3 separate regions of the Homo sapiens genome follow, and regions 1 and 2 are each linked to region 3. The links come from fine-mapping of genetic effects on gene expression. A gene starts in region 3. Each other region holds a variant in brackets. All regions are shown on one strand. Distances are between the middles of the regions. Region 1 overlaps TMEM154 (transmembrane protein 154). Region 2 overlaps TMEM154 (transmembrane protein 154). Region 3 holds the start of TMEM154 (transmembrane protein 154).

What was found. PIP is the estimated chance that this variant, and not a neighbour inherited with it, causes the effect.
Region 1: its variant is the best candidate, but not a certain one, in a credible set for the expression of TMEM154 in blood mononuclear cells (TOPMed, PIP 0.63).
Region 2: its variant is the best candidate, but not a certain one, in a credible set for the expression of TMEM154 in whole blood (INTERVAL, PIP 0.74).

Annotation. Positions count from the first base shown.
Region 1 is chr4:152,616,768-152,624,951 of GRCh38, reverse strand. TMEM154 (transmembrane protein 154) reads left to right here. Exons shown (of 7, transcript NM_152680.3): 7 at 1-6,324. Among named protein-coding and RNA genes, the nearest start is that of TMEM154, 59 kb to the left of the region's middle. The variant A/G (reference allele first, on the strand shown) is at 4,331.
Region 2 is chr4:152,648,845-152,657,028 of GRCh38, reverse strand. TMEM154 (transmembrane protein 154) reads left to right here. Exons shown (of 7, transcript NM_152680.3): 2 at 4,102-4,362; 3 at 4,453-4,491. Among named protein-coding and RNA genes, the nearest start is that of TMEM154, 27 kb to the left of the region's middle. The variant TG/G (reference allele first, on the strand shown) is at 4,878.
Region 3 is chr4:152,676,259-152,684,442 of GRCh38, reverse strand. TMEM154 (transmembrane protein 154) reads left to right here and starts at 4,446. Exons shown (of 7, transcript NM_152680.3): 1 at 4,446-4,573. The coding sequence starts at 4,510. It overlaps LOC105377495 (a long non-coding RNA gene), which reads right to left and starts at 4,358. Exons shown (of 4, transcript XR_939359.3): 1 at 4,139-4,358; 2 at 3,770-3,856; 3 at 3,303-3,368; 4 at 2,781-3,080. RefSeq lists enhancers at 4,363-4,672, 3,983-4,812, 7,880-7,969.

The sequences.
Region 1 (8,184 bases), 59 kb after region 3:
AATTTTATACTGAATTAAATTAACGCATGTGACTTTTCACATTCAGAGACATTCAGGATGAATTCTGGGGTTTCCATTTAATAGCTATAACAGGCAGTCCAGAACAACTTCACATATAGCAGCATTTCTGCTATGTGACAATGACCAAAAGAGTTCCTGTATATTAGTGTCTAGTGGAATATTTCAAATTGCAGAACCCAGACAACCAATTGCCTGAATTATTATTATTTTTTGTTTTTAGCAACTCTTTGGCTTTATCTTGATACTGTCTTGTCTGGCACCAAAGTTTTATTTCCTTCTTAGTCCTCTTGGGGATAGTTTTTGGGTGTTTTTTTTTATTTTTCTTTTTTTGAGACGGGGTCTCATGCTGATGCCCAGGCTGGAGTGCAATGGTGTGATTATGGCTCACTGCAGCCTCAACTTCCCAGGCTCAGGTGATTCTATTACCTCAGCCTCCCAAGTAGCTGGGACTACTGGTGTGCACTACTAGGACTGGCTAATTTTTTGTATCTTTTGTACAGATAGGGTTTCACCGTGTTGCTCAGGCTGGTTTTGAACTTCTAGGTTCAAGCAATCCTCCCACCACAGCCTCCAAAAGTCCTGGGATTACAGGTGTGAGCCACCATAACTGGCTGGAATTATTTGTACCTGGACCTTGTGTTTTGTTTTTTTGCCCTACTATCTTTTCTAAATAACATATCATGTTCCTGAGATAGCAGTATATACAATTATGTAAAATAGAGCTTTATATGAACTCTGTACATGCTCTAAGCTCTTTTTGAATGATATTTTAAGAAGTTTCTAAACCAAAGTGCTTAAGAAAACATGAAGATGTTAATTTCATGAAGACTGTACAAGTTTAGAAGTACAATGTAGACCTGTTTAAGACAAAGGTGGATGGGCTTTGGGGTTTTTTTTACAATTGGACTTCAGGTACAGAAGGCTTGGGTAATGGTACTCCTCAGTTCATATCACCTTATCATTGGCCTTTAGTATTTTGTAAATAAGTAACTGGACTTTTATGAAAAGCATATTCTTAACAGTTTCCCATTTCCTTTTTTTTTTTTTTTAAGATAGTGTTTTGCTCTGTTGCCCTGGCTGGAGTGCAGTGGCATGATCTTGGCTCACTGCAGCCTCCACCTCCCAGGCTCAGGCGATCCTCCTGCCCCAGCCTCCCAAGTAGCTGGGATTACAGGCGTGCACAACTGCATGCACAACTAATTTTTGTATTTTTAGTAGAGACAGGGTTTCGCCATGTTGGCCAAGCTAGTCTCAAACTCCTGGGCTCAAGTGATCCGCCCACCTCAGCCTCCCAACATGTTGGGATTATAGGCATAAGCCACCATGCCCAGCCAGTTTTCATTTCTTTGGTCTGCATGTAAAGGACTAAAGAATGATATGTAGCTACTACACTGCAGCAAACAACATTTTTCCAGTGTACAAATCAGTGGAGAGTAAGCAATGTATTACTCTGATGTCGGTGAAACACCTCAAATTATAAATAATGCCAGGAACATGTGAAAACTCCACATGTTTAATAAATGCCAGCTTTCAGAAAAAGCAGAGATTATAGGTATTCAACAAGTTAAACAATAATCTGGTAGATTAGTAATAATTTAACACATGTGTATCTTGTATTTAAAGTTAACTGAAAATTATGTAAAAAAAAAAAACACTGTGTTTGACTTTCTTTTGTTTTACAAGTGATGCAGAGTATCTGCTGAGAAGGTCAGTTAGATCATCTGATGTCATATTTGCCACTTAGCTTTTGTCCCAGCAGCATATAAATTCTACCTTGTAAGCCTCATATTAGAAGTGGTCCCAGCCAGGCACAGTGGCTTACTTCCCAACACTTTGGGAGTCCACGGCTGGTGGATTGCCTGAGCTCGGGAGTTTGAGACCAGCCTGGCCAACATGGTGAAACCCCATTTTTACAAAAATGCAAAAATTAGCCAGGTGTGGTAGTACACACCTGTAATCCCACCTACTCGGGGGGCTGAGGCCCAAGAATCACTTGAACCCAGGAGGCGGCAGTTGCAGTGAGCCAAGATTGTGCCACTGCACTGCATCCTGGGTGACAGAGCAAGATTCTGTCTCAAAGAAAAGAAAAAGAAATGGTCCCATTGCTACGGATTAGAACTAATTTGTAAAACTATCAGAATTTTAAGACTGATTAAAGGTTTTAGGTGTTTTTCTCCTACTTTGCATACTGAGAATAATATGTATAGTATTTTTCCAGTATGATTTACAATTTTATAAATGTCAGTATACATATGTATATATAAATTATTCTCAACTCCATTTTTTTTTAAATAAAATAAGTACATGTTTGTGTGCTAAATTGCTCATTTGGCAGTGATAGATTGAAAAACATTTATAAATTTAAAAATAAAGCACTATAAGATATGAGGAATGAATAGCTTCTATGTGAATTTCTATGTAATTAATATCAATATTTAGAATAAAAGTGTATTTGAGGATAAGATATTTGTTTACTAAAATGTTTTATTTACTAAGAGTAGAGGTGAATTATGCATCTTTCTAAGGAAAAGTTCTTTTAATTTCTGTGTCTATGAAAAAGAATTCATAATTCATAATTCTTAATTGCCCTCTTTTGATCCATATAATTCTTTAAATAAACGAAACAATACCAATTCAAAAAGGGGCCTGCTTTGTATAAAATTGTCTAACCTAAAAATTAAGTAGACTTTCTGCATATCTAAAATATATTATTACACATTCTTGTCTTTATTCTTCCTTACAAAACATTTTTAAATGAAGGAATGAAATTTTAATTGTTTATGAGAATATAACTTTTAAAAATATTTCTAGTAGGCCAGGCATGGTGGCTCATGCCTGTAATCCCAGCACTTTGGGAGGCTGAGGCACGTGGATCACCTGAGGTCAGGAGTTCGAGACCAGTCTGACCAATATGGTGAAACCCTGTCTCTACTAAAAATACAAAAATTAGCCAGGCATGGTGGCTGTCGCCTGTAATCCCAGCTATTCGGGAGGCTGAGGCAGGAGAATTGCTTGAACCTGGGAGGCGGGGTTTGCAGTGAGTGCCAAGACTGAGCCACTGCACTGCAGGCTGGGTGACAGAGTGAAACTCCATCTCAAAAAAAAAAAAAATTCTAGTAAAAATGGAAAAATCCACAAGAAAACCTCTTTTTTTCCTGATTACTCACTTTTCTTCATGCCTTTAATTTTAACCTCATCTCACACCTTGATATTAGAAGAAAGTAAGGCTGAAAGGCAGATTCATAAGTTGTAGATAACATGAAGACTTCCTTGAATAAGGATTTATTCTTTCGGCTCACAAAGACCAGTCAGTATTATTGACAAACAACAGGCAGGAAGATTTCTCCTAAAAGTCTCAACTAAAGTTAAACCTGGTCCATTATGGCATCAATCTACCCCTAGAAACTGATGCAGAGTCTATTTCCTCCCTGTTTTAACTAGAACTTAGCCAGACTGGAGACAGCATGGACCCAAAGAGCATGCAGTCCCACAGAGTTAGGGAAAGGATGCATCTTGACCAGCATTCATCATGTGGATCAGTTAGGAATTAAGTTCCTGATTCAAGGTGAGCTCATATGGCCGCTCCCTGGTCATCTAGGACACAAGTTCCTTCTAACTCTTCCCCACCTTCATTAGTACAGGGCTTCTTTCCTGTGTTGCCACATGATCCAAAATGGTGGTTGTAACTCCAGCATGATATTCACAAGAAGGAAAGAGAGGGAACCAGCACAAGGGTGAGCCTCCCAAGTAGGTCAGCCACTTTTAAATAGCTTTCCTGCCAGCCCAGTGAAGCAACTCTGCTTACATCTCATTGGCCAATCTCTGCAAGGCAGCAGGGAACAGTCATCTCTATGGTTGGTACATTATCACTTTCAACAATAAGGGATTCTGTCTCACAAAGTGGTGGAAGAATATTGGGTATCTGAAGAGGTAGCCACCCTGGCCAGAAGGTGCTAAACACTAAACATACATCATCTCATTTTAATCCTAGTAATTACTTATGAGGTAGGTTTAGAGAACTTATACCTTGTTCCATGTCTTTCCAACTCCAAAGCACAAGTTTTTAATCACTGCACTGCACTGCATCCCCAATAACTAGCCGTAGGAAAGTGTTTTAAAAGGCATCACTTGGCGGGGTGCAGTGGCTCACACCTGTAATCCCACCACTTTGGGAGGCCGAGGCAGGCGGATCACCTGAGGTCAGGAGTTTGAGACCAGCCTGGCCAACATGGTGAAACCCCCGTCTCAACTAAAAATACAAAAATTAGCCAGGCATAGTGGCATGTACCTGTAATCCCAGCTACTCAGG[A/G]GGCTGAGGCAGGAGAATCACTTGAACCTGGGAGGCGGAGGTTACAGTGAGATGAGATCACACCATTGTACTCCAGCCTTGTCTAAAAAAAAACAACAAAAAAACAAACAAAAAAAAGTTTCAGTCATTGTCAAGGATGCCTTAAGGTGAGCATAGCCTGAGATAAGAAGTAACAGAGGCTGCAGGCTGAGATAAGAAGGAACAGAGGCAGTGAAGGCAGGACCCTAGGCCCAGAAGTAATGGTCTATCATGCTGAGAAAAAAGCCAGGGCTTAGAATAGGGGTGATAAGTAAAAAGCCTAGTTTTAAAATCTAAGTGCTGGTAAAGGTTTGGTCACTAGGTGAAAAAATAAAGTTCCCACTTACTAGAGCTGACATAAACAGCATATGATCCTCTTTAAGGTTGCAGTGGAGAGGCATGTCCAGGGACTCTCAAGTTAGAGACAGGTGTGTTTAGTGCTAGAATTGGAAAGACATTCAAGCAGACTGGCATGTTGCCTCTTCACAGCCATAGTCGTGCTGGCTTGCAGGATACTCCAGCCTAGAATGTATATAGGAGTGTGGAGAACAGCAAAATCAGCATTGCTTGGGATTCAGCCTGAGCTCAAGTGGCCCACCCCTGGAGGCATCCAGTGTTCACACTTCCCAAGAGAGAAAACCTGATTGGATGGGTGTTTCAGCAGTCTATTGCTGCTTAAACACCTCAAAACTTAGCAGCTTAAAACAACAACACTCAATTTATTTTTCACACAAATCTGCAATTTGCATGAGGCTCAGTGCAAATGGTTCAACTCTCTCCCACACGGCATTGGCTGGGCAGTTCAACTGGATCTGGGGGTCCCACTTTCAGATGACTCACATGGCTGGCAAGTTTGTTCTGGCTGTCGGATAGGAGCCCAGCCAAGCCTGTGGTCCAGCGGCCTTGGCTTTTATGATGTGGGCCTCTCCATAGACTCCTTGGGCTTCTTCACAGCATGGCAGCTGAGTTCCAAGAGCAAGTGTCCCAAGAGAGCAAAGTAGAAATGCATAGTATTTTTATAATTTAGACTCAGAAATCACATCACATCACTTCTGCCATACTTTATTGTTTGAGACAGTTACAAAGTCTACCTAGGTTCAAGGTGGAAAGGACATAAACCCCACTTGTCCTTGGAGGCGTGTCAAAGCCACATTATGAGAAGAGCAAGTGGGATAAGGGATTTGTTGCAGGCACCGTTGGAAAATGTGATCTGCCCAAATTGGTGTGTCTTCATGCAATATCGAGGAAATATATTAGGTAGTTTCGTGTCAAGGAACATTGTGGATATTTGACCTCCCTGAATCCCAGTGCCTATGTGCTCTTTGGCTTGGACATAGACCCCTGGTCCAGTAGTCTGTAGTAGGTGGTAGAACTAGTTTTACCAACTACATGAGTCATGAGCCATGGGACTGAATGGGTTGTAGGTGGATCAGACACATAGAAATGTATGACTACTCTCAAAGCATGAGGTTAAAATGGGAGCAGATTAGACTGAGCACCTTGAGGATAGGGATCAGTCTTACTCATCTCTGTATCCTGAAAAGTGCTTGGCGCTACTGCACGCTCCATAATAACAGAAAAACCAATTATTTAATGAGCTAGGAGTTACATATCATCTTTCCTTAAGTACCTAATCAGTCTTTATCATCAGTGAGTGCAGAACTCAAATATGGTATTGTTCATCTTCCATCACCATTTTCTCCCAAGTTTCCTGGTTTAATTGCATTTTCCTCACTTTCCATCTAATGGATCCTGATGTCATTCTTTATCTTTATTTCATATTGTCCTATTGTGTGTATTGTATTGTATTTTTAGCTACATTAAATCCAATATGGAAGGAAGCAGAGAACGATCATAATTGAACTAACAAGCAAGTGGAGGTGGAGAGAAAGTGGCCCCAATTTGGAAGGTGAAGGAAAACTGGGGATGGAGCCTAACTGATCATTAAAATGCTCGAAGCAGCTCTTTCCAACCCAGATCTGAGCTTCTCTTCTTTGCCCTCTGGAGGGTCCACAGAGAAAGGAAATACAAGTTTTATTAAGAAAAAGAGGAAAGCATCTATTTTAGGTGATAATACAAGCACAGAGAAGGATTGTTTCTTCTCTGGGCAGGAAGACAGATTCACAAAATAAGAGGCACTGTAAATCCTTCCTGAGATGTTCCCCAGCACCTCTGAATGTCACTGAGACCAACTAAGCCAGTTAATGGGCTAAGACCCACTTACCTCTTAACTCCATGAAATCCATGCAGAAATACCTCCATCTTGTTACAAGTGCCAATTGATTGCTTTTTACCTGGCATGAAGGTGCCTTTCTGTTCATAACCCACCCTGTCCCATTCCTAAGGGAACCCCATCCTTCCTCTTGGCTTGTACTGTTAGACCCTCTGCCTTCCGGCAACTGAGATGAAGATTCTAAGGAAGCAGCCACATGAACTCACGTCAGGATCAGTGTTCCAGGGGCGTCCAGAGCATGAGCAAGAGAAGCAGGGTGGGAGGATGTGGGTTAAACAGCAAAAACTAAGATTCGTTGTTAAAACCAAAGGGGCAGGGGAGGGGTCAAAATCTGGAATATAAATTAGAGGTGACAGGGAAACAGAGGCAGACTGGAAAGGGGCAGGAATGAGGTGAGGAGAGGCGGTTTCCACAACGGAGCTGAGCTATGCAGTCTGCCTTTATTGGCCGCTGGCTGCACAGTGAACAGGGGTCAGTGTGGCCTGAGAGTGCAAGGCTGGGAAGGACACTAGATAGCCAATACCTTCTTTTTGTCAGCATTGCCCAGTTTCCCTGTTAGGTTAGAAAGCCCAGTTCCAGAGAGACAGTGTGAATCACAGACCCTAAACTTGGACCCACACTCCCACAGCATCAGGGCACACATGCTGACTCCCATAAGAGCCGTGAAAATGCTAGGAGCTAACTGGGTCAACCGCGGGAGGGGGCAGCTCCACCCATACATTTGGCCTTATCCAGAGCCAGTGACATGAGGCCCAACAGTTTTCTTTGCATTAAAAAAAAAAAAAAAAATATATATATATATATATATACACACACACACACACACACACACACACACATACGCATAGTGTTATATATATACTAAATAAATACACTTCTAATTGTCTCTCTGTATGTGTAATAGTGGTGTGTTTGTTTAAACAAGACTCTTGGTTCCAGTGAGAAAATGTCCAACTCAAACTAGTCCAGCCCAAAAGGAAACTTATTGGCTCATGTCATCATGCTTGGAAAGGGCAAGAAGTTGCCAATTCCAGGGACAACCAGAACCAGGTAAAACTGACATGAGTAACAATGAGACCAGGGACTCAAACCCCATCAGGCTTCTCCAGTATTTTGTCTTTCATTCATTCTCTGGGACCAGCTTTCTCTACAGGACTGTAATTATTGCAGCTGGGAGCTCCAGGAGTCTTCTGTCTTTACCACCAGAGTAGAAGGGAAAATCCTTCCCTGGGTCTAATATTTAAAAGCTCCCCCCCAACCACCAGAGGAATTTGATTAGACTATCTGGGTTTTATGCCTAACCCAGTAAAAATGCGTACAGGGATGGAGTGGGCCTGACACTTTTCTCTACTCCTGCAGGTGGGTGAGTGGATGGGTGGGTGGTGGGTGGTTAGGTGGTTGGCAGTGGGGAGGAGATACAGGGGAAAGCAGTTTCTAAAGGGAATCAGAGTGCTAGGAACAGATGCCGGGCACTCGGGAGCAGCCAAATGCAGAGGTATCCACCATGCACATGTTTCTTTCCCTCTGTACTTACTTATCCACATCTAGAGAGTCAGAAGTTGAGAATGAGCCAGGTTCTCTGGATGGTGGCTTTACTAATGCT
Region 2 (8,184 bases), 27 kb after region 3:
TTTATTTTATGAATTCTTCAGGTCCAGAATTTGTTTGGTTCTTTTTTATTATCTCTATCTCTTTGGTGAATTTCTCTCATTCATACCCTGAATTGTTTTCTAATTTTGGGTATTGTTTTTCTGTATCCTCTCATGGCTGGAGTGCAATGGCATGATCTTGGCTCACCGCAACCTCCACCTCCCAGGTTCAAACGATTCTCCTGCCTCAGCCTCCTGAGTAACTGGGATTACAGGCATGCACCACCATGCCCGGCTAATTTTGTATTTTTCGTAGAGATGGGGTTTCTCCATGTTGGTCAGGCTGGTCTTGAACTCCCGACCTCAGGTGATCCACCTGCCTCAGCCTCCCAAAATGCTGGGATTACAGGCATGAGCCACTGCGCCCGGCCTCTGAATTTACTTTCATAGGGGAGGAAAAAGTTCTCCCCTATGAAAGTAAGGTGTTTCTTTGGTGTTGGTTAGGTAGAGTGCTTTGGCTTTGATTCTGGGTATGTACATTAGTGTAGTCTCCATATGATTTATTCTGCTGGAACCAGTGCCAGTAGTATCTGTGGCTTCCCCAGCAGCTTAGGATGTGGTTGTTAGTGGAGGCTGTGGTGAAGTATTGCTGGGGACTAGGATACCAGGTGGGCCAGTCTTCAGGCCCCAGTGGTGACAGGGGTGGGTTGAGCATATCTGTCCTTGGATCCCAAGGCAGTATACACTGGCACTGGTGTTAGTGTGTCCAGGCAGGCTGGTTTTTGGGCTTCCAGGTGTCTTGCTTGGGTGCTAGAAATGGTAGTGGTTAGCCAGGCAGGTAGGCAGATTGACGTGGGTGTTGGCAGTATCAGTGGTAGGACAACACGCTGGGTCCCAAGTACCCATGCTAGTGTTGGCAGTGGTTGCAATGGACTGGGCAGGCCAGTCCCCAGGCCTGTAGCTGGTACATGAGGGTGGATGCCAACTATGATGGTGGCAGCAGAGTGGGTAGTCCCAACCTCAGGCATCTGGGAGGAATGCTGTGGTGCCAGTGGTGATGGACTAGACTGGGCTGGGCAATCACCAGGCCCCAAATGGCACACTCAAGTACTGCACTGGGAGAGAGCTGGCCTGTGCAGACCTGTTCTTTGACTCTCTGGTGGGGCATGCAGTAGCTGGCTGTAATAGGTAGGGGTGAAGCAATCCCCAGGCTGCTGATAGAAAGCTCAGGTGAAGGCAGCAGTGACTACACTGCTGCCTGCTACTGCAGAGGATGGGATTGCTTTCAGTGGGAGCAACCATAGGCAGCCAGCTGGGGCTATGCTTTGCTCATGCTTTGGCCCTAGCAGCAGCAGTTTATAGCAGCAATAGCTGAGGACAGTGGAGTTTGTCCTTGAGGCACATAAACATGTGTGAGCGCCCCGCTGCTGGCCAGGGGTGGGGGGAGGGGTGCTGCCAGCGGCTCCTACCTTGGCCCTGGCAGCAGCAGCCAGCAGCGCTGGTGGCTGCAGGCAGGAGCTCCAGAGACATGGAGATTCAGGGGCTGTTGGGCCCTAGGGCAGGATACAGTCTGGTGGGGGCTGGGCCCTCAAAGTGGCACTGTGCTGCAGCCACTAGGGCTCAGGGGTGTGTGGGACTCCGCATAAGGTCCCTCTCTGGAGCAATGCCATTGCACAGTGTACAGGCGCTCTCAGTGTTAGTCTCAGGGCCTGTGAGAGTTGAGGGGCTCTCCCGTGGCTAGGCTGCAGGAGTCTGCAGTGGAAATATGGACCACTACCCTTTCCCCACATTGGGGAGCTTCTCCTGGCTCCCAGCCAGTCTCAGCCAAGAAGGATGCCTTATTTCCCTCTCCTTCCGTGCTTTAAGTGTTGTCTATTACTACTCTGTTGAATTCCTGTGTTCTCCCTTAAATGATCAATTCAAAATGTAGCTTATCTACTCAGTATTTTTGTTATTTTTTGTGAAGAGGTGACTGCCAGATGCATCTAGTCAGCCATTTTGAAGCCCCTCCACTCTTCAAACATTGGTAGTTTTTTTTTTCAATCCTGCCTTTGGCATATACACATGAGAAACACCAGTGAGTTTACTCTGTAGTTTGTAATTGATTCTGATGGTTTGGGGTTGCATTTACTAAAGGGATTATCAAATGAATTCCCTGATGTGGGAGACTGAAAGTATTTATTCATACAATCAACACAATTAGATTCTTACTGTCTTAGCTCAGATACCATAACAAAATACCACAGACTGCAAGACTTAAAACAACAGACATTTATTTCTCACAGTTCTGGAGGCTGGGAAGTTCAAGATCAAAGGTGCTAGAAGATTTAGTATTTGGTGAGAACTCTCTCCCTGGCCTGCAGTCACCACCTTTCCGTATCCACATATGGCAAGGAAAGAGAACTCTGGTTTTCTTATCTTCTCATAGGAGCAATAATCCTGTCATAGGGTCCCCACTCTCATGACCTCATCTAAACCTAATGACCTCTCAAAGGCCTCACCTCTTAGCCCTAATCCATCACATTGAGGATTAGGGCTTCAATATATGAATTTGAGGGGAATGCAAACATTCAATTCATAGCAGTGACCAAACATTTTTATTGTTTCAACCAAAATCAGAGGACTCCATTGTCATGGGATTATGAAGATAGATGAACTATTGAATTGGCTCTGCAATGTCCAGTTTGATCATTCTGTAAAGTAATTGCCTAACCTATACCGCAGAGTGTGGTTTAAAGCAGCTGACTTCTGTATTTGCATAGTTCCTTTCACCTTAGAATAACTTTCTTGTAAATTATCTCATTTGATAAGTTTTCTGTAGCATCAACTTACGAGGTATTTTCCTCAGTTGGCCCCTTCTGAAAGGTAGACAACATTATACGATATTAGGACAAAGACCTTCAGCTTATCTTACCATGACTACTGCTTAGACAGGTAAGGAAAAGTTTTTCAGATAGTCATCAAGTCAGTAGTCCTTTCTCATCCTGATGGTTTTTATTTTCCTTTTCTTTTTTCTTTTTCTTTTTTTTTTGAGATGGAGTGTCGCTCTTGTTGCCTAGGCTGAAGTGCAATGGCGCGATCTTGGCTGACTGCAACCTCTGCTTCCTGGGTTCAAGCAATTCTCTTGCCTCAGCCTCCCAAGTAGCTGGGATTATAGGCATGCACCACCACGCCCAGCTAATTTTTGTATTTTTAGTAAAGACAGGGTTTCACCATGTTGGTCAGGCTGGTCTCGAACTCCTGACCTCAGGTGATCTGCCCACCTCAGCCTCCCATAGTGCTGGGATTACAGGCGTGAACCACCATGCCCGGCACAGTCAATTCATTTTCAAAGAATTATTTTCCATTGATAGGTAACCTTTTATTTAAATATTAGGACACAGACAGGCGCAGTGGCTCACACCTGCAATTCTAGCACTTTGGTAGGCTGAGGCGGGTGGATCACTTGAGGCATGGAGTTCGAGACCAGCCTGGCCAACATGGTGAAACCCTGTCTCTACTAAAAATACAAAAATTAGCTGGGTATGGTGGCACATGCCTGTAATCCCAGCTACTCTGGAGGCTGAGGCACGAGAATTGCTTGAACCCAGGAGGTGGAGGTTGCAGTGAGCTGAGATCATGCCACTACGCTCCAGCCTGGGCAATGGAGCAAGACTCTGCCTCAAAAAAAAAAAAAAAAATTAGGACACAGAGTGCATTTCTTTACATCTAAAAGTGCTGTATGGCATGTACTTAATTTTAGTAAATGTGAATTTAAATTTATTCAGACATTTTGTTAAAATATTATCATACCCTATAGGAGATGTCCTGTAATATCACATTACTTGGCTTGGAAAATCACCCTTAACATGAGGAAGCTTCCGAATCCACTTTGCTTAAGCGTATCTAAAATGTCTGGTCAATGCAAAACTGCCTACCTTTGTGCAAGGTTTTTCTCTGAGCTCTGATTCCATATTCAATACACTCCCAGCTTGAGCTTCATTTATGTTAAATCAATGTTCTGTGTCACACTTAGCTTGGAGGCCAAGTATAGTGGGTCAAATTTATCACAGAATGTATCTAGGAATAATTTAAAAATCATTGACAATATAACATACTAACTTTGTCTCCATGGAAATTTCAATTTTGTATCTATTCCCACAGGTAATTATGAGGAATTAGAAAACTCAGGAGATACAACTGTGGAATCTGAAAGACCAAATAAAGTGACTATTCCAAGCACATTTGCTGCAGTGACCATCAAAGAAACATTAAATGCAAATATAAATTCTACCAACTTTGCTCCGGATGAAAATCAGTTAGAGTTTATACTGATGGTGTTAATCCCATTGATTTTATTGGTCCTCTTACTTTTATCCGTGGTATTCCTTGCAACATACTATAAAAGAAAAAGAACTAAACAAGGTAAATATTTGGTGTATTTCCATTTCCAGAAAATTGCTTCATGTGTTAGTGAACAATCAATAAAACAAAATATTCTTTGCTTTGATACAGAACCTTCTAGCCAAGGATCTCAGAGTGCTTTACAGACATGTGAGTATTATCCTAAAACCTGCCTACAGGTGGGGGTGGGATTGGAGAAGGAGCAGAGATGTTTTAAAATTAAGCAACAAGGACTACATATAATAGTAAGTGATAAATAATACATTTCAATGAAATTTTCCAGAAGTGAATATATGCATATTCCTTTCTTTAAAAAAAAAAAAAGTTTAATTGAATTTCAAAATACAGGCACGCCTTGTTTGGTTGCACTTTGCTTTATTGCACTTTACAGGTATTGCTTTTTTTTTTTTTTTTAACAAATTGAAGTTTTATGGCAACCATTGCCTCAAACCAGTCTATTGGTATCATTTTTTCAACAGCACATGTTTACTTTGTGTCTCTGCATTACATTTTGATAATTCTCACAATATTTCAAA[TG/G]TTTTCAATACTACTATGCCTGTTATGGTGATCTGTGATCAGTTATCTTTGATATTACTGTTGTAATTGTTTTGGAGTGCCTGAAACCATGCTCACAGAAGACAGTGAACTTAATTGATAAACATTGTGTGTGTTCTGACTGCTTCACCAACAAGCCATTCCCTGTCTCTCTCCCTGTCTTCAGGCCTCTCTATTCCCTGATACAGAACAATATTGAAATTAGGCCAATTCATAACCCTACAATGGCATGTAAGTGTTCAAATGGAAGAAGAGTCACATATCTCTCATTTTAAGTGAAAAGCTAGAAATGATTAAGCCTTGTGAGGAAGGCAAGTTGAAAGCTGAGATAGGCTGAAAACCAGGCCTCTTGTGCCAAACATTTAGCCAAGTTGTAAATGCAAAGAAAAAGTTCTTGAAGGAAACTAAAAGTGCTACTCAGTGAACATACAATGATAGGAAAGCAAAGCAGTATTATTGTTGATATAGAGAAAGTTTCAGTGGTCTGGGTAGAAGATCAAACCAGTCACAGCATTCTCTTAAGCCTAAGCCTAATCCAGAGCAAGGCCTTAATTCTCCTTAATTCTACAAAGGCTGAGAGAGGTGAGGAAGCTGCAGAAGAAAAATTGGAAGCTAGCAGAGGGTGTTTCATGAGGTTTAAGGGAAAAAGCCATTTCTATAACATAACAGTGCAAGATGAAGCAGCAAGGACTGATGTAGGAGCTGCAGCAAGTTATCTAGAAGACCTAGTTCAAATCGTTGATGAAGGTGGCTACACTCAACCATAGATTTTCCATGTAGATGAAACAGTCCTCTGTTGGAAGAAGATGCCATCTGACTGGGCATGGTGGCTCACGCCTGTAATCTCAGCACTATGGGAAGCTGAGGCAGATCATTTGAGGTCAGGAGTTTGAGACCAGCCTGGCTAACATGGTGAAACCCTGTCCCTACTTAAAAAAAAAAAAAAAATGCCATCTAGGACTATTAATAGCTAGAGAGGAGAAATCACTGCCTGGCTTCAAAGCTTCAAAAGATATGCTGACTCTCCTGTTAGAAGCTAATGTAGTTGGTGACTTAAAGTCAATTCTTGTTTACCATTCTGAAAATCTGACAGCTCTTAAGAATTATGCTAAATCTACTCTGCCTGTGCTCTGTAAGTGGAACAACCAAGCCTGGATGTTAGCACATTTGTTTATAGCATGGTTTACTGAATAATTTAAGTCCACTGTTAAGGTCTACTGCTCAAAATACAAGATTCCACTAAAAATATTACTGCTCATTGACAATGCACCTGGTCACCCAAGAGGCCTGGTGGAGATGTACAAGGAGACTAACGTTTTCATGCCTGCTGATACAATATCCATTCTGCAGCCCATGGATTAAGGAGTCATTTTGAATTTCAAGTCTTATTGTTTAAGACATACATTTTGTAAGGCCATAGCTGCCATAGATGGTGAGTCCTCTGATAAATCTGGGAAGGAATCTTCTGGGAAGAATTCACCATTCTAGATGCCATTAAGAACATTTCCGATTCATAGGAGGAGATCAAAATATCAACATCAACAGTATTTTGGAAGACGTTGATTCCAAGACCCATGAATGACTTTGAGGGGTTCAAGACTTGAGTGGAGGGGTCACTGCAGATGTGGTAGAAAGAACAAGAGAACTAGGATAAGAAGTGAAGCCTGAAGATGCCATGGAATTGCTGCAATCTCATGATAAAACGTTAAGTGGCTGAGAAATTGCTTCTTCTGAATGAACAAAGAGTTTTGTTTTTTTTTTTGAGATGGAATCTACTCCTAGTGAAGATGCCATGAACATTGTTGAAATGACAACAGAGGATTTAGAATATTCCATAAACATAGTTGGTAGAGCAGCGGCAGGTTTTGTGAGAATCGTCTCCAATTGTGAAAGAATTCTATTGCAGATAAAATGCTATCAAACAAAGCATTGTATGCTACAGAGAAATCTTTGTGAAAGAGAGTCAATCAATGTGACACATTTCATTGTGATCTTACTTTAAGACATTGCCACAGCCTTCCCAACCATCAGCAACCACCACCCTGATCAGTCAGCAACCATCAACATCAAGGCAAGACCCTCCGCCAGAAAAATAATTACAACTTGCGGAAGGCTCAGATGATCGTTAGCATTTTCTAGCAATGAAGTATTTTAAATTAAGGTATATACATTGTCTCTGTAGACACAATGTTGCACACTTAATAGGTTACATTGTAGGAAAAACATAACTTTTTATGCATTTGGAAACTAAAAAATTAATGTGACTTGCTTTATTGCAATACTCACTTTATTGCAGTGGTCTGGACCTGAACCTGCATATTTCTGGGGGATGCTTTTCTACTGCTGCCATCTTTGACCCTAATCCAGATGAGGATCCTGTATAATTTTAGCCAATAAGCCAGTATAACATTTCCCATCACTGGGGAAAGAGAAAGGCTGATCAAGGAGTGAGTCAGATTAGGGTTAGGGATGGGAAGGCTAGAGGCCTTGGGGTCATCACCACCAGAAGAGCATTCTTTCATCTATATTTCTGTTACAGATTTTATTTTCTCCCCCACCCCACATCCCAATTTGATCTTGAAAAGTCCTGGAGGAAGCATTGTTCTTATTCCCATTGAAGCTATGCTAACTTTTATAATCAAATTCTTCAACTGTCTAAAGATTACTAACATCAATCCGAAAACCAATTATAGAAAATTCCCTCAGTCAGAGACCCACTTTGAGAGTATTCAGTTGTGATTCAAGGAGCATCACGTGCTAGGAGTCAGGGTAGTTCTAGGTCTAAAGCAGACTTGGGTACTTTTGGCTTGTGCCAGTAAAACTCGCTCGGATTCGATTTTTAAGTTAAAGCCTTTATAGTCTTTCCAAAAAGTTACTCAAAGGATAGGAACGTCTCTAATACAATACATAGTCATACATGTATACAAAACTCACTTTATGTCCCTCACACCCATGACAGGGCACCTCTGGCTTTGGGGCCATGCCCTTGTCCCACATGCCCACCTCACTGTCTCTGTGCCAGAGGAATCTTTCACAGTCAGCAGATGAGGCAAATGTGAGCTGGGGAAGAAGCCCCGAAGAGTATTTCCTTTCATGGCAGAGGCCCATATAATAGATTCCAAAGAAGTGGGAAATACATGTTTCTCCACTGCTTGAAATTTCAGGACTTCCTAATAACATGGTCATATGGAGGCTTCTTTCTAAGCTTAAGAAAAAAAAGCAAACAGAGCTTTTTAAATTTTTTAAAATTCAGGAAAAGTCATAATTTCCTTCCCCAAACCATGACTG
Region 3 (8,184 bases):
TTATCTATCATGCATAAAAATCCCCTCAAACATTACAAATACAGAGTTATGGACCTCAGCTCTAGGGATTCTGACTCAATAGTTCTGGCATAGGGTCCAGGACTCTGAATTTTAACAAGCTCCCCTGAATAATTCTAACATAGGTGGCCCCCTCCAGTGCACTTAAAAAAATACTGCTGTAAAGGGATTTTCCCCCCATTTACTCACTTCTCTGTTCTCTGTCCTAAATGCTGAGGATAGACTGGAGAGCAAGACAGAGAATGCCATTGCTCTCAGAGGGCAATTAGAGGAGGACTGTGGATGTTCAGCAGTGAGCTGCTGCTCTGTCTCTTAGATACGCCCCAGCACCCTCTAGCCCAGAGCGCTGCACTGTGTCCCACGTGTCAACTGCCACTTTAGCTCCTAATCACAATCCTTTACAGTTTCATGTTGTGGTGACCAGGCCATCTACCTAGGCCCTGGAAGACCCTGTCATGGAAGCCCCTAGGATTATCCAAACCTTGCAACAGTTTCTCTGAAGAGTATTGGCAGCCAGGATGCAGAGACAGAGACCCCCAAGGGTGGAGATAGGCTGGTCAAGATGAGCCCGGCTGTGCAGGCTCCAGCTGCCCCCACTTCACGCGCAGTGAGATGGCTGTCAGCCCCTCTCCTGGCTGTGGCTTCTCTGCACACGCTAAATGTCAGCCTAATCCTTCTGCCCCAGCCTCTGCCCTGCCCGGCTACCTCTCTGGGCATTCCTTCAGAACCTGGGACTTCAATCTGCCTCCTCCCTGCACCTTCCTAGCTGGCTTCAGAGTGATACACAGGCCCCACCTGATGTTACTATTATCTTGTTTGAGGGCCAGCCCACAGCCAACCAAACACCCAGGAACCATCCACTGTCACTAGCAGGCATTTAGACAGAGAAAGAAGCTCCAGAACATTTGTATGTGAGTGTCGATGTGAGAGCGTGTGTGTGTGAGCACGTGTGCACATTTCTGAGTATGTGAGTGTGCCTGTGGGTGTGTGTTGGGAGACTGGATGTACAAATGGACAGTGGCCAAATAATATATGCAAAAACAGAACACTGGCTCCCAGCTTGCAGCAACCAACCCCCAGAAACCAATTCACTATCTTCAGTAGCAAGTCTAGGAAGCCAGCCTGCTAGAAATCAAACTTGTAGGAGGTCAGAGCACCTTCTGACAGATTCCCTCATTTTTATCTCCTCTTCTGATCTAGCAGCAGCAAAATATGCACCTCCTCACCAATCACTAGAACTTGCTGCTGGTTCCCCATGCCAGCAGCCTCCCTTCAGGCCATACCTGAGCCTTCCTTTTGTTTTTTTTCTGAAACGACTCTTGCTCTGTCGCCCAGGCTGGACTGCAATGGTGGGATCTCGGCTCACTGCAACCTCCACCTCTCAGGTACAAGTGATTCTTCTGCCTCAGCCTTCCGAGTAGCTGGGATTACAGGTACCCCGCATCATGCCCGGCTAATTTTTGTATTTTTGTAGAGATGGGGTTTTACTATATTGGCCAGGCTGGTCTTGAACTCCTGACCTCAGGTGATCCGCCCACCTTGTCCTCCCAAAGTGCTGGGATTACAGGTATGAGCCACTGCACCCGGCCCTGAGCCTTCCTTTTATCGACTGTAAAGTTATCTCATTCCTTGGCCTGCCTTTGGGTCTGTGCCAAAATGCAGCGATGGTGGCTGACTCTCTTGCTATGGCAAGCTCTGAATTAATATCCATTGCTTGGTTTCATTTGCTTGTGCTCATTTAGTCTTCATTTATTTCCACCATGTGCATGAATGTGTGTGTGAGAGACAGCTGTGTGTGTATCTGAGTGCATGTGCACATCTGTGTGTATTGGGAATGGCAGGATCGGAGTGTGAAGAGGAACGCGGAGAAGGCTGTCTGCACCCACTGGAAGATCCTATCATTTATCTGGATTTGTTCCCTTGGAGTCCCTCTTCTTTTATGGCCCATGGAGTGGTGGTGGGGAGGGGGCGGGGGGAAGGGAGGGAGGATAGGATGAGAGTCACTTCTGTAGCACAGACAGTTGATTGTAAAAGTCACACTCCTTTGTGTAAAGTAATAAAGAGTCCCTAGACATGGTTCCCAGTGTCCCTTCCTGCCCTTCTGAACATGATGAAGCACCATACTTCTTTCCTGCTTTCAGACAGCCAATGGCAGGCTCCAAAGTGGCATTACCCCTGCCTGTGTGCCACTCACTCTGAGGTTCCCCTGTGCCCCACATCTGGGACTGAGGCCCTGACTTCCTGCCACCAGTGCATCGGGATTTAATCTGAGGCTGGGTGGCTATTTGCCTAAATTAATGGTTGCTAAAATTAAAACAGAGGTAAATAGCCCTTTACCTACCACACAGCCTCCCTGGGATTTTAACTGCAGCAAAGAGATCATTGAGGTGCTACCATTTTCTGATCAATCATGGTAATTTTCTTCCCCCTAAGATCAGCTTAATCATGCTAAGGGTCTTAGAGAGCACAGGGGTCAAAAGAAAATTACATGGTTGGGCAGGATTTCTCTGCAGCTCCAGTTTATTTTGTACCTCACTCTGATTTAGTGTTGCACTGCTCAGAAGCAATGCATAGTGCACTTGTTGAAACAGTAATGAACTGTTTGGCCATGTCATGGGGCTCAGCAGAGGTCCACAGAATAAGACAGTCTGTGGTCCAATCCACAGACACCTGACTGCAAAAGCTTCCACAGGGAGCTGAAGTTTAAGATGAAAGAAACGAAGGCTGACAACCTTGCCCTTGACAAACATTTGCCTCCAGCCTGGGATTCAACAATGTTTTAATAACATTTAATAATATTTTAATAGGGCATAAATGGTAAAATGGAGAGAACTCCCAAGCCCTGGGCCTGCTTTCTTGCACGTGTGTGTCACAGCTGCAGAAACACGTGCTTGTACAGGAATAATTGCCACCCCAACTCAGTACCAGCAGGTCTTGGAGCCCGTGATCTATTCACATGCTCAGCAAGTGTTTAATTAATAGTTCTTTCTCTGTTGTTTTCAAATCAATCACCCAGTTTTGAGCACGTCTATTTTCTCCTGCTGTTTGTTCTGTATTGTCACCTGTGGTGCAAAAAGCATATTTTATCAAGAATTGACTTAATTGCCAGTTTAAAACATTAAAGTGCATACTGTAAATCCATTAACAAACTGATCCTTACATGAATCACCAACCTATTTCTTGTGAATAATAACTGAGATAAACAGTGACTAATGACATTGAAAAGCAGCAATGCATTAAAGAAAAATTAACAGCTATGTCAGGGGCTAAGGAATTCCAGTCACCTCATACGTTTGCACCAACCAGATCACTGAAGACAAACGACGGGAAGTCATGACTCAGATGGTGATCTGCAGGGAAAGGTTTAGAGATGAGATGTGTCTGATGCCTCAACACTACCCCTCTCTCCATCTGTCTGTCTCTCTTGGCACCACGATTATGAAACTGCATTCTGAATGCTTAGGCCCTAAACCTAAACCAAGGGAAGGACCTCCAATAGAACACCCAACACACACTAATCTCCACTGTATACTAGACACAACCTTTCTGTATTGTTTCGATTGGATAGGATTTCTACCATTATTCTATTTCGTTTCTGTCCTGTTTTGTTTGTTGTCTGAGAACTTGATTGTCAAGTAAGAAGGAAGGAAGGTGAGATGCAGATTCACCCCTACCTCCACCCTCAGAGCATATTCTCCTTTGGAAATGGACCTTGAAAAGATCATTTCTCTCTGGGGAAGCAGAACATAACCTTAAGGTGTGGGTGTGGCATCCACCTCCATCTGGCGTGGGCCTTGGTGGGAGGAGGGCATTCCAGAGTGGAGAAAGGAGAATGGACCTGGCGGAGAGAAGTGGTCTGGCAGTTTTCTGATGATGCAGTTGTCCCTGCTGTCTGGGCCTGCGCTATCCAACACAGCAGCCACTAGCCACTTGGAGTTATTAAAATTTTATAAAAATTCAATAAAATTTAAATTCCATCAGCACTAGCCTCAGTTCAAATGCTCAGTGGCCAATGTGGCTGATACTGTATCAGACGGCGCAGACTTGGAACATTTCCATCAGGGCAGAAAGTTCTACAGGACAGCTTCTTCCTAGGGTCTAGGCAGCCCCGGAGCCTCACCTGGGGGATAAGCAAAATCACAGAGTGAGAATGCGTGTGGTCCAGGACCCCTCCCAGTCCCAGATACCGAACGACATCTGAGCAAGGGACTCTGTTGCCCCGGGGACGGTTTCAAAAGCTGGAGGCCGGGACTCCAAAGGGCTGGAGAGGCGTGATAATAGAACCAGTGCTTCAACAGCAACTTCTCTTTTGCAATCCTTGCTGGTCTGACAGGCTCCTGCAGAATTACATCACTTCCTAAAAAACAGGCACACACCTCTCCTTCAAGTCAGCACCGACCCAAACAAGCAGGAAACAGGAAATGTTCACGTTTCAGAGAGGCTGCAGCCCGGCGCAGCATCCTGAGCGCGCCTCTGCCGAGGCGAGCGGACATGCAGGCTCCCCGCGCAGCCCTAGTCTTCGCCCTGGTGATCGCGCTCGTTCCCGTCGGCCGGGGTAAGCCGCCTCCACTTCCTACTCCTGGGAAGGAGGATCGCAAAAGCTGGTAGGGTGCCCGAGGCTACAGAACTCTGCCGGGGAGGGTGACACCCAGAAAATCTAATCCTTTCTGTGAAAGAAGTGGAGAAAATTAGAACTCCTTTTTTTGGGGGGTGGGATGGAGAGGGGACTTCGCTTTCGCTGCAGCTGTCTAAACTGGCTACAGCTCTCACTTCATTTAACCCTCTTTCAGTCTTTGTCTTCCAGGAAGTGTGCGTCCCTGTAATTTACCAGCTTTAATGGGCATATTAAGAAAACCATAAACTTTTTGGCAGTTTATGTAAAAAAAAACAAAAGCTTCAATTGGCTGAAACAGAGACATGATTAATTTGCTTTTTATGGTGTGGGCTGAGAAGTCTGCTGATTCCAAAATCTCCTGGAAAAACTGGGGTGTGAAAATTTACTACTAGAAAGCATACTAAAGAAACGACATAAACTTAAAAAAAAAAAAAGGAAACGGGAAATTATCCGAAGAGCTACCAAAGAGCTATGTGTTAGAGGGTAGCCCTCTAACACATCAAGTAAGGTCTTTCATCTACTTTTATTGCACCTTGTTACTTTTACAGATTTTTTTTTTGCATTGATTGTTACTAATGAAGATTTGTTTGAAAAAGTAATATGATTGGAACCAATCAAAGGTATTGGAAAAAACAATATTGAATCTCATTATTATGGGCTAAAAGCAACAACTGATTTACACCCTTGCCAGTTGCTACAACAAGCACAAGCACCTTCAGCTGCCTCTCTTGTTGACTTGCCTTTGGGCAAATACACTGGCTGCCCATTGTTTCTGTCAATGAACACCGACTGCTTCTAGTGTAGGGCAGTATTTACCAAGCAAAAGGAAAGTTCTCAAGCTACAGTTCTTTAGATAGAATGAGGGACATCAGCCCCAACCTAACAGATGTGACAACTTCCTGGAGGTCAGCAGCCAGCACCCAGCCACCCCACTCCATCAATTTCTCTTCCCCTGGGTGTTCTCCATGTGGTCCCCCAGGCATCTGAGGTAGAAAACAAAGTGGAAGGCAAATCATTCCAGCTGAAAAGATGTCTGGTTAAATTGAGTTTAGTGTTCAGAGTGGGTTTGGAAGTTGATGTGTTGTTTTATGCCCAGTGTTTTGGAGCTGGAAGGGAACTTGAAGATGATGCAGCTCAAACCATATTGGGCACACAGGTGAAGAAACAGAGGTGGAAGAAGGGAGATGTCTGGGTCTTGCTGCTAGTCAGCTCTTCTGGCTTCTACTCCAGAGTTCTTTGAGCTCCTCCACCCCCCACCACCACTGCCCCCCTCCCCCCACCGCCGCCCCGGAACCAATCACTGTCTCTGCCAAGAGCTCTGGAACCTTTCGTAGTAGGACATCAGGGAAGAAAAGCCTAGCCATCCTCCTTCCACCTCTTCTATTGCACAACACTGCCACAGGTGCCTCAAACACTCCCTTAATACTAATTCATCTTGCCTGAACTTTTTTTTTAGCTTCTAAAAAATGATTGAGTCCTAGTGTCTGCAATTCAGGAGATGCAAAAAGAGAATCTGAAGAGACTTGGTTAAAGTTGCCTTTCTGACACCTGAATCTGATCGTGCACATCTTCCCCCTTAAGGACCCCTCATTTATGCCCCTTCACTTGTTCCTCATTTTTGCCCCTTAGACTCTCACTGCAACCTCCTTCCCAGTGGCACCTCCTTCCAGTTGTCGTCCCCCTCCGTGGCTCTTGCCTATAATGAATACATTCTTTTTCCTACCTAGCAAATTCTTGTATCACCTTAAAAGTATCAAACTAAATGTGATCTCCTCCTTGATGTCTCCTTTCTCTGCCCCTTCCCTGGAGCTCTACTCGTACCTGCTGCTGTGCCCCGATAGACCTAAACTTCTGCTAATCACTTTGAACCATAATTGTGTCCATGCCTCCCAACTGGCTGTGAACAGCTCCAGGGAAAATCCTCTGTAGTTCACCTTTGACTTTCCAAAATCCTGTAAGGGCTCAGCATAAATGAGAAAATAATTGTTGATAAATATGAAAATCATCCCTAGAATGGATATGAGGCTGATTACAAAAAAAACTGATAGCTCCTGAAAACAGGTAGTGTTGGAATGTAAAGAGAAGTCAAAGATGAAAAGTTGCATTTCAGTAGAGTGCAGGGATTACCTAAATAATCCAACATGCTAATTGGGCCCTGCTGGGATTCCCAATGTCTGAAAAATGCCCACTTGCAAAAAGCTGTTGAATAAAAGCTATGACTTTGAGATGATTCATCATGGAAAAGGTGATTTTAAATTAAAGATTTTTAAAATTAATTAATGTACACTACTTTTAGCTAATAGTGCCTAAGGCTTCAGGATATGAGTTACTTTCTAGGTGTCACAGGTATATTTCCTTGAATTCTTCAAAAAATACCTGGGGATGTTTGTTAGATGAATCCAACCTACTGAAGGGCCTGACACTGTTTGTGAGTATACTCTGAGATGTATCTCAAATTAAGCCTTTATTAACAACGAGCAGGCAACATGAGATAATATCTGCAGTTGCATGAGACCAGCACTGTTACCTCTGAGTCAGCGACCTCTTCTCTTTTTAGAGATAGATAGCCTGACATAGAATTGAGTTCTACCCCAAGAGAAATAATTCACTTGGAAGTCACCAGGAGAGAAATAAGAAAGCAGCTTTTCTGGGACTATAATGGAATGGGTGAGCATAGTTAAAGGAAAGCTTGGGCCTAGGTGCCTTGGCCAGTGTAGGATCCTAAGAAAGTTCAAACTCAAGGAGATGTTCTGCTCATGGAGTAAAGTGGGGCAGGGGTGTCCCCGTCTCTGTTCTTTATGCCCTGTCAGTGTCAGCTTAATACTATCAGAAAACCAAAAGCAATTTCCTAAATACCAAAAGCATGGGATTTGTTAGTTGCTAAAAGCAGAATTGTTGCAGAAGGGAGAGCTGAAGGCCATGAGGCAGAAACAAGGATGCTGTGACTGTTTTGGTGGCCAAACAGAGAGGAATGGGAGATTTTCTGGGCTGGTTCAGAAGAATAAGAATTATATAAGTATTGGATGAATCTTGACAAGGAGAGAAAGAATAGTAGAAAATACTAGCTATGTAAGTAAGGCTACACATTCTGACACTGTGGTATCTCATATCTTATTTTAATGAACACGGCTGACATCTGCTGTTTCCTGGGACAGTCCCAATTTCAAGTATTAATAACAATAGTAGCTAACATATATAGAACTCATTATAGGTCAGGCACTATTCTAAATGCTACATTCACTAACTCATTTAATTCTCAGAACAACCTTATAAGGTGGGCACTATTATCCCTGTTTTTACATTTGAGAAAACTGAGGCACAGAGAGGCTAAGTGACTTGCCCAAGGTCACACAGCTAATTAGTGAATCTAAGTAAGATTCTGCCTCAGGAGTCCATTCTCTAACCATACTCCATACTACCTCTGGGTTTCCAAGCTCTGCCAGGCTACTCGTTTAGTTTTGGGTTTAGAAAACTGTGGTTGTTGAACCTTTCCAGCTGTAGGTGCAGCACAGAACTCTTGGCTAGGCTTTGCGGTGGCTGCATGTCAATTA